Regions from separate parts of the Homo sapiens genome. Here region 1 is linked to region 2. The links come from fine-mapping of genetic effects on gene expression. Tissue or cell type: prostate. Region 2 holds a variant in brackets; the other region holds the start of a gene. All regions are shown on one strand. Distances are from middle to middle.

What was found. PIP is the estimated chance that this variant, and not a neighbour inherited with it, causes the effect. A credible set is the group of variants that fine-mapping cannot tell apart.
Region 1: it holds the start of ATP1A4, and the variant in region 2 is the best candidate, but not a certain one, in a credible set for the expression of ATP1A4 in prostate (GTEx, PIP 0.80).

The regions. Positions count from the first base shown.
Region 1 is chr1:160,149,373-160,154,588 of GRCh38, reverse strand. It overlaps ATP1A4 (ATPase Na+/K+ transporting subunit alpha 4), which reads right to left and starts at 2,986. Exons shown (of 22, transcript NM_144699.4): 1 at 2,402-2,986; 2 at 1,365-1,424. The coding sequence starts at 2,548.
Region 2 is chr1:160,174,575-160,179,786 of GRCh38, reverse strand. ATP1A4 (ATPase Na+/K+ transporting subunit alpha 4) reads right to left here. Exons shown (of 22, transcript NM_144699.4): 15 at 5,040-5,208; 16 at 3,541-3,695; 17 at 3,185-3,308; 18 at 2,123-2,268. Among named protein-coding and RNA genes, the nearest start is that of CASQ1, 13 kb to the left of the region's middle. RefSeq lists an enhancer at 4,701-5,212. The variant G/C (reference allele first, on the strand shown) is at 3,083.

The DNA of each region.
Region 1 (5,216 bases), 25 kb after region 2:
GGTAGCACAATAGGGCAACTATAGTTAATAATTTATTATGGATATCAAAATAATTAGAGGAGTGGATTTGGAATGTTCCCATGCAAAGAAATGATAAATGTTTGAGGTTATGGGTATCCTAAATACCCTGATTTGATCATTACACATTGTATGCTTATATCAGAATAATACATGTATACCATAAATATGTACATCTACATATCCATTTTTTTTTTTGAGACAGAGTCTTGCTCTGTCACCTAGGCTGGAGTGCAGTGGCATGATCTCGGCTTACTGCAACCTCCATCTCCCAGGTTCAAGTGATTCTCCTGCATTCAAGTGATTCTCCTGCCTCAGCCTCCCAAGTAGCTGAGATTGCAGATGTGTGCCACTATGCCAGGATAATTTTTGTATTTTTAATACAGATGGGGTTTCACCATGTTGGCCAGGCTGGTCTCCAACTACTGACCTCAAGTGATCTGCCTGCCTTGGATTACAGGTGTGAGCCACGGCACCTGGCCCATAAATTTTTAAAAAACATAAATAGAAAAGAATACTAACAAAAAACATGAATGCATAGATTCTCATTCCACTCTTGTGCACAAGCTTATGTGCTTTTTCCTGTTAATGAAAATGATAGTAGAACCTGCCAATCACCACCAGCCACTCCCCAACCTCTGCCTGAAACACCCGAGGGGCCCCAAAACCCTTTCAGGGGGTCCACAAGGTCAATTTTCATAGTAATACTAAATCATTGTTTGCCTTTTTTTACTCTCATTTTCTTAAGAGTATATAGTGGAATTTTCTGAAGGCCAACTGGCATAACATCACAACAGATTTTATCCAGAAAATATTTGAGAATCCAGCTATCTTCTATTAAAAAGCAAGACATTGAAGAGGTTTGCAAAAATGTAAGATGCTGCTAATTTTTTTGTTTTGAAAAATACAGTTATTTGTCAAAACATATATGAATATATGATAACTTTATTTTTGTTATTTTTAAATGAATTGAGAAATACATTTTAAAACTCTCAATTTTAATTTCTAATATGGTAAATATAGACAGACTTAAGCCACATAAGCACAAGTTCTTTGCGGTCCTAGATAAATTCTAAGAGTGTAAAGGAGACCTAAGGACAAGACGTTTGACCAGCACTGCCCTAAAGCATTCTTATTCTCTTATCTAGTCCCACACTCTCTTTGAGGGTAGTTACCATTTGCAGCTTTTTCCAGGTAGTGTCCATGGAACGTGGCCAGGCAGAGGGTGAGGGGTGGGAACGTTGGACTTGAAGTTAGGGGGCTGGATTCCTAGTTCAGCTTTTGTCCTGGCAGCCTCACAGTCAGAGTTGGAGACTCTCTGCCTCCTCAGGGAGCTTCTTACTCACCTTTGTCAGGTCCACGGAGTACTTGGTGCTCAGCTCTTCCAAGGTTAATTTGTGATCATCCTGAGGGGACAGTAGAGGCATTGAGGGACAGGGGGTGGCCCAGGTCATTTCCAGGGAGAGGGGGAGAAACAGACTGGAGAATGTTAGTCCAAACTGAGACTGCTCCATTTTGTAAGCTCCCTGCAATTCTTTTTTTGAGATGGAGTCACTCTGTTGCCCAGGCTGGTGTACAGTGGTGCGATTTCGACTCACTGCAACCTCTGCCTCCCAACAGGTGTTTCTCCTGCCTCAGCCTCCCAAGCAGCTGGGATTACAGGGGCCCATCACCAGGACCAGCTAATTTTTGTATTTTTAGAGGCGGGGTTTCACCATGTTGGCCAGGCTTGTCTCAAACTCCTGACCTCAGGTGATCTGCCTGCCTCAGCCTCCCAAAGTGCTGGGATTACAGGTGTGAGCCACCACGCCCGGCCTAGCTCCCCACTATTTTACAGGCCTTGGTCAAAGTGAAACATTTCACGGGGGTTCGGGCCAGAGAAACAGCCTGCCTAACCACCTGACCACAGGGCAGACGAAGGCCCAATTAAAGACAAAGACCCCACTAAAGAAACATCCCTATCACATCCTGCTGGGCAAAGGTCCAGGGAATACCATGATTATATTCTGTGGAAACAAGGGCCAAAAATCACCTCATCATGAGAACATCTTATCGATATCCTGCCAGGCAGCAGGCCATACAGCCCAGACTCCTCCCATCCATCCCTATAAGTACCCAGCCTGTAAGTGGCAGTGGACTGTGGAATTAAGCTGATCCCCCACTTCCACAGGTGTCTGCAATATACCTGTGCTTGCTGTTGAGCTGCCCTGTCTCTCTGTGTGTATCTTTTTTTTTTTTTTTAACCCTCTCCTTCCCTCCAAAGCCTAACAGAGAAGAGATGTGGCTCTGGCCTGTGTGTTTCATTCTCAAGGTAAGATGTTAAAGATAGGTGGAGGAGTGTTTTCAGAGGGCAGCTGTCAGCGCCCACTTTGGGTGGCCTCACCATGACCACTTCCTTCTTCAGTTCCTCCATATTGCGCTTCTGTTTTTCCCTCTTCACCATTTTTTTCTTGATAAGCCCTTTTTTAGGTCTTCGTCTTGGACTCTGGTCATGGGGAGCCACTGTCCCTTTCTTCCCCCAAAGCCCCATAGCTATCCCCAGAAAGAGCTGCCCGAGCTCAACTGTGGGAAGAAAGCTGAGAGAGTGAGGCAAGGGGAAGGGAAGAGGGCGCGCGGGCAAGGGGGCCACGAGAAGAGAGTGGTGGGGAGAGAATGAGGGAGCAGAAAGAAAGAGGCAGGGAGGGAGGTGTTGGGTGGTGAAGGTGAGAGAGAGGAAGGGAAGTGAGAGAGGAGAGACTGAGCGGTCCTCCAGCCGTCCGCTGGGAAGAGGAAGAGTCAGGAGTGAGGGAAGAGGGAGGAGAGAAGCCTAGGGTGGAAGGATAAAAAGGTAGAGGTGAGGGAATGCAGTGAGGGCAGGAAACAAGAGGTGAAGCGTAACCAGGTGCCTCAGTGATGAAGATGCCGCAAGGCCCACAGGAAGGTGGGAAATGCAGTGAGAGTGAGGAGGCGGAGTGAGCTTCAAGGATCTGGGAACCCCCCAGTCCCAGGCCCTGTGGTTGCTGGGGCAATGACCCAGGTCTGGCATCACAAAGGCCTCCTGAAAGTTCTAACCAAGAATCCAGAAGTCTTGCCTTGGCGATGGTCCAGGTCTGCTGTCGCAAAGGCCTCATGAAGGTTTTAACCAAGAACCTAGAAGTCTCAGTCTTTGGGTTTGAGGACGATTGGAGCAGGCCCTGCTACAGAAAGAGTTTCAGTCTGAGGGCAGAACTAGAACAAAGTTCTTGTGTGGTCCTGCAGACTTTGGAGGCTTAGAGGTATGCCAAATAGATGACTCAAAAATAAAGCGGGTATTCGGCCGGGCGCGGTGGCTCATGCCTGTAATCCCAGCACTTTGGGAGGCTGAGATCGAGACCTTCGTGGCCAGTATGGTGAAACCCCATCTCTACTAAAAATACAAAATTTAGCCAGGTGTGGTGGTGGGCACCTGTAATCCCAGCTGCTCGGGAGGCTGAGGCAGGAGAAACATCTGAATCCAGAAGGCAGAGGTTGCAGTGAATTGAGATTGCATCACTGCACTCCAGCCTCGGTGACAGAGTGACTCCATCTCAGACAAACAAACAAACAAACAAACAAACAAACAAACAAACAAAAAACCATAGCAGGGAGCTTACAAAATGGTGCAGTTGCAGTTTGGACTAATATTCTCCCGTCTGTTTTTGAGACTCCATCTCAAAAAAAAAAAAAAAGCAGGTACTCTGTGTGTGTTTTTTAGCAAGGCACACTTTTCCACTAACATTGGGTTTGATCTTTTAATTTTAGGAGATCAGCTAGCAGAATAGATCAGATCTTGGGCTCTGGAACCAGTCCTGGATTTCAATCCCAACTCCTCCACTTGTCAGCTGTGTGGCTTTGAGCAAGTTACCTAACCTCTGTACCTCTCTTTTCTTATTTTTAAAAGAGGATACCTTCTACCTTAAGTGAGGTGCTCTACAAAAAGCACTATGTGACATATATAGTATGTGCTCAATAGGTAGCTTGAATTCAGTAGTAGTTTTATTTGTGGATTAATATGCAGCTCTTCTCAGTGAGGGTAAAAATATGCTTTTCCATGTGATAGCGTTGCATTTTCTCATTTTAAAATGATGTACTTACCTCTTCCATTGACCTTCTCTGGTGTCTCAGTAAGTGCTTTGACTATATTAACTGTATATATGTTTTGCATGTCCATAGGATTCTACCTCCTTCCAAGAATAATCTGAAGCATCTATACTTTTCTGTCAACCATTATATATATTTTTCAATTATGCACGTCACATAGATTTTCCCATTCTGTTGTTTGATATTTGTTTATTTACTTTTTGAGACAGGATCTCACTTTGTTGCCCAGGCTGGAGTGTAATGGTGCGATTATGGCTTACTCCAGCCTCAACCTCCCAGGTCCAAGTGATCCTCCCACCTCAGCCTCCCAAGTAGCTGGGACCACAGGCATGTGCCACCATGCCCGGCTAATTTTTTTTATTTTATTTTAGTAAAGACGGGGTGCCCCTGTGTTGCCCAGGCTGGTCTCAAACTCCTGGGCTCAAGCAATCCTTGGCCTTGGCCTCCTAAAATGTTGGGATTACATAAGTGAGACACCAAGCCTGGCCTGATATTTATTTAATTGCATTTTGGTTGGGCATGCTTTTTAAAAATATGACTGTATCTGGAAACATTCATCTTGGTGCTGATGCAATCCTCCTTGAATATTCAGAAATAGAAATGCTCCCTTCCCAGCTGGGATAAATGATCGTCTATTTCTTTAACAGATTGGATTTTTCTTCTCTATTAAAAATGTTTAAGATAAAAATTGAAAGCCCCACCTTCCCTCCCTCCAAACTCAGATTCTCCCCACTGCTGAAGTTACTGCTGGTAACAATGTGCTGCATGTCCTTCCAGTCTTTTTTCTATGTTTATACAAATAGATATCTAAAAGGAGGTATTTTTCAACTTTTAAACAATCATTCAACTCTCTACCAACCTGTCATGTACATAAAGCTTCTTTTTTTCAGTGCTGTGAGGCTTCCATATTCTGTATTGACCATGCTCTATTCAATCATTCCCATTACTGATGGATTTATGAGATATTTTCCATTTTTTTAACCATTAATAAAATTGCTAGAGTGTCATTCTTGCACATAGATATCATCAGGCCCTTGAGCTTCTATTTCTGTAGAATCAGTTCCTGTTGCTGAATCATAGAGTACACTCATTAACAATCT
Region 2 (5,212 bases):
AACTAGAAATAAGCTCCATGAGAGCAATAACTTGATGATTTTTGTTCACTATCATATCCCCAGGCCCTAGAACAGTACCTGGTACATAGAAGATGCTCAGTAAATATTGTCTGAATGAACAAATGAGTGAGGGAATCACTGGAATTAATGAAAGATATTTAGAAAGTAAGGAGCGATCCTTGCTTCTAGCAGTGCATCATGCACTTCCCGGGTGGGTGGCTCTATACCAGATTATCTGAAAATTACAGTCATAGAAGAGACACGGACACGCCTTTGTAGAGTTTGTTGCTCAGGGCAACTGTTCTCAACACATTTTTGTGACACTTCAAGATGTCTTCAATGTGCAGGGGGGAATTCTTAACTTTTTACCTCAAATTACTTTTAATTACCTTTAATTTATTGTCAGTAAATTTATGTTATGCTGCATCTTGGCAGCAGGGAGGAAGTATCAAGATGGAAAACAAGGGCTTGAGCTGGGAGTTGAGATGTTGGCAGGGTACACAGCAATGAGAACTTTGGGTGTCACTGGATCCTGCAGCAGTGTTAATAGCTGGGAATATTGACATCTGATGGCCTTACAGCCTCAGCTAATGGAAGCCAACTGTATGTGAGGGGCACCTTCCCAACAATTCAGATTTGAACACAATTTGAGAAACCTGCAATTGGCTTGGTTTGGAGACATCGTGGTGAAGTGGGAAAGTGCTGGGCAGGGATCTAGAGTCCAGAATTCAAGTCCAGCTCTTTTAGGGATTCACTGTGGGACTTTAAGCAAGTTACAGAATCTTCCTAGATCAGGTTCCTCATCTACAGAATGATGAAAATTTACTGTGTCCTCTATGACGCTACAATTCTAGCAATAATTGCTGTCACATGTCACATGACCCATTGTCTTAGAAATTGGGACAGGAGTATCACAGATACCAAAAAAGCATACCTACTAAAATTCTTAAACACATATTGTTGGGGAGAGGGCTTCAGTTTGAGCCTCATTCATCTTGGTTGTTAGAAAAGACAACTATAGAGAGGTATCCTCTAGGTTAAAAAGGTTTAGAATGATTAGGAAGGGATATACAAAGAAAATAGGTTTTCAGGGTTTTGTTTTTTTTTTTCTTTGAGACGGAGTCTCGCTCTGTTGCCAGGCTGGAGTACAGTGGTGCAATCTTGGCTCACTGCAATCTCCGCCTCCTGGGATCAAGTGATTCTCCTGCCTCAGCCTCCTGAGTAGCTGGGATTACAGGCACCCACGACCATACCCAGCTTATTTTTGTATTTTTAGTAGAGATGGGGTTTCACCATGTTGGCCAGGATGGTCTTGATCTCTTGACCTTGTAATCTGCCTGCCTCAGCCTCCCAAAGTGCTGGGATTACAGGCGTGAGTCACTGTGCCCAGCTGGTTTTCAAATTTTATATTTATTTATTTATTTATTTTTTGAGACAGAGTTTTACTCTTGTTGCCCAGGCTGCAGTGCAATGGCGTGATCTTGGCTCACTGCAAACTTTGCCCCCCGGGTTCAAGTGATTCTCCTGACTCAGCCTCCCGAGTGGTTGGGATTACAGGCATGCGCCACCACGCCCGGCTAATTTTGTATTTTTAGTAGAGACGGGGTATCTCCATGTTGGCCAGGATGGTCTCAACTCCCAACCTCAAGTGATCCGCCCACTTCGGCCTCCCAAAGTGCTGGGATTACAGGCGTGAGCCACTGCACCCTGCCTCAAATTTTAAATCATATCATTTGAACTCTCATGGAGGGAGAGTATAAGAGGAGAGGACCCAGCATTTATTTCTGGGGCAATCATGGTTGAAACCTGGGAAAAGAGAAACCGGCTCAGAAAAGTTGATATGACAAAGACTCCAAGGAGCCAAAGGACTCAGACAGGCAGGGCCAGACAACAGACAGGAGGAGCCAACCAGAATGAGCCTATGCTAAACAGAAGAGGATTTGCTGTTGTGGCTGAAGACTGAGGGCAAGTGTGAGAAGGCTCATACAGGACTGAAGAAAAGGCATCAGCTCTGTTTGTGTGGTGCTTCCCTTCTTCTCTCTTAAAAAATTTGCTGCACTCACTCTCCCCTGTCACTCTCACTCTTACTGGTCTCAGCTCCTACCTTATCCCTTCTACTCACCCACTGCTGTCCGTAGCTGTCCTCCAGGTCATTCAAGTATTTATCTTCCCAGTGGAGGCGGATGCCCAGCAGATCAACAGGCCTAAAACCATTCTCAGCCAGGATTACAAAGTAGGTAAAGAATCCAGCCAGAGCCTGGATCATCCCTGTGAATGACAGAGTTGCAGGACAGGGGAGCCTGGTTCAGAGAAGGGCCCCAAAAGGTAGGCCAGGGGAGGGCTGGGGGCTGGGACTTGCTTCTGGCTGGGCTGGTGTGTGTCTGAAGAGTAATGCGGAAGAATCTTGCCATCAGCTGCCTAAGCCTGTTATCTCTCATCTCTGTGGGACTTTCCTTCAAGCCCTGACATTTGTTTCTAAACTCTGACCCAGAGTCAGCTTTGAATCACATGGTCTTAAAACTAAAAAGGACTTTAGAGGCCACTGATTCCCTCTCCCAATTTTTTCTTTTGAGACAGGATCTTACTCTGTTCATCACTCACCCTATTTTCTGAAATACCATTGCACCTGGAAAATCAAGAACAAAGACTTCTAATGACTCTCAAATGTCTGTCAAGGCTGACCCCAACACAAATGATATCTCTGTCTACAGTCTTATTTTTCACTACTTTATAAAGACTAAGGGCTCTACCAACCTGGTTTATTCAGTCTTCTTTAACTGTGCCATCTGAAATTCCCCACTCCTTTGGTCTCCCACACCTGACCATACACTTACTAGTCTAAGCCCCACTCTCCCACACCAAGTTTAAGTCCTATTTCCTGCATAAGGCCTCTCTGGCTATCCTCATAATGGTGAGCCTGCTTGCTTTGTAATCCTGTAGTATGTTCTGTCTATACTCATTACTTGGCACTTGGAGATGCTATCATTTTATGTATGTTTGTTCCTTTTGTACTGGACTCTAAGTCAAGGACAGATCAGAGATGAGTGGTTCTTTGTGTTTTCAGGGCCTAGCACAGTTTGTT[G/C]CTGAGAAAATATCTCCCTGACTTCCAAACTGAGATGGCTCACGTTGCCAGGCAGGGGAAACCACTCCCTGCTCCCTCCACCCCTCATTCCTCTGGGCGCACCAATCTGTCCATAGGCCATGCCAATGAGACGGTGGTTCACCAGATTATCCGTCTTTGGGTTCCTTGGAAGCCTCTTCATGATGTCGCTTTCAGCTGACTCATAAGCCAAGGAGATGGCAGGGACCTGGAGGATGGAGGGTGGGGATGACAGGGGTCACAAAGTTCAGAAGGAAACCCAGCAGTAATTCAAGCTCTACCATTCTGTCTTGACGCAGCCTCAATCCATCTTGCAGGAGGTGCGAGAGCTGGATCATAAGTGGGTTGTCATGAGTTTTAGTAAGATAGCTCCAGGCAGAAAGCAGGGAGCTTAGGAGGCAGAATTCTGGGAATCTCTTGCTCACCAGCTTGGCCCTTACCATGTCAGTGCCGAGATCAATGCAGAGGATGGTTATGGTTCCCAGAGGCAGGGGTATACCGAGGATGATGAACATCAGGAAGGGCGTGATCTCGGGGATGTTGCTGGTCAGGGTGTACATGATGGATTTCTTCAGGTTGTCAAAGATCAGGCGGCCTGGGGAGGAAGGTCAACCTCCTGTGAGAAGCCCTGGGAGAACACGCCTCCCTCAAACCAGCTCCGGGACAGACAGGCCACCTCAAAGAAGTGTCACAGTCCAGGAAAGGGTCTGGAGGTCCTAGACCTCCAGGGTCCCAGTATTGTTTCTAAATTGTGTGCCTTTTAATCAGAGCCATGCCGTCTGTGTACTGTTTGTTCTTAGATTCACCCTAGCTAACGTTATCTGATCTCTGAAAATTAGCAGGGTTGGGCCTGGTTAATCCTGCGATGTTTGAGAATGTCAGTATAAAAGCCTTTACAAGATTAAGGCTGGAATGGAAACAGCCAGGGCTTGGGACAGGCTTGTGTTCAAATCCCATCTTCTGCCATAGCTAGCTGTGACCTTGGGCACCCTCACCTCCGTGAGCTTCATTCCTCCTGCCTTGCAAGATTGCTGCATCCGTCTCTGACTGCCTTTTCAAAGATCGAATCCCTCTCTGCACTCTCTGCTTGGTCTGTCCCATGGCACTTATCTTCTTTTAACATACTATATAATTTAATTATTTTATTGTTTGTCATCCCCACTAGAAATTAAGTTACACGAGGGCAGGGATTTGTGTCTTTGTTCTCCCTACTGTTGTATCCCCAGCATCAAGCATAGTGCCTCCCACATAGTCAGTGTTCAAACGAACTTATTGAATTGAGTGGATATAAAATACCAAGCAAAGTGTCAGGATTATACAAGGTTTCAATGAAATGGTAATCATGATTATGATGTGGATTGCCATATGTTTTAGTAAGATAGCTCCAGGCAGAAAGCAGGGAACCTGGAATGCAGAATTCTGGATCTCTCCTGTTCGCAGGAGGGCATTCTCTTCACAGTTCTCTGGGGAAGAGGGTGTGTAATTGGGCTCATGCAGTCAATTCACGGGTCAAGCTCCAGCTGATCCTGATGTGTCACCATTATTTAGGCAACAGGTTCCTAGGGGACCCTCCTAAAGATTGCAGCGCATGGAATAGTCCCAGGGGTGTGGCTACATCTTGGAACTGGCTGTGGGCCTACTTGAAGTCCAGTGAGAGGACAATGACGATATTATGTATACCAGAGTCTCAGTCTCCCTGATAGGAAAACAAAATGAATAAAAGGGACTTTTCTCCGATCTCATCAAAAGGGGTTGCAGATAGTGATGGTCTATGTACCAGCTGATCTAATTTGCAAAATTTTGTCTTACAGTGATTTTCTTCTGAGCCCGTACAGGCTCATGGAGGTTGGATGATGGGAAAACGGAAAGAGGGGATGTACACCAACCCCCACCTGAGTCCAGGGTTGAAGTCTCCACCATGGGCACCCTGCCTCCTCACCCTCCTCCACCCCCGTGACGATGGAGGCAAAGTTGTCATCCAGCAGGATCATGTCGGCTGCCTGCTTAGAGACGTCAGAGCCAGAGATGCCCATGGCAATGCCAATGTCAGCCTTCTTCAGCGCAGGGGAGTCGTTCACCCCGTCACCTGTCACGGCCACAACGGCTCCCTGA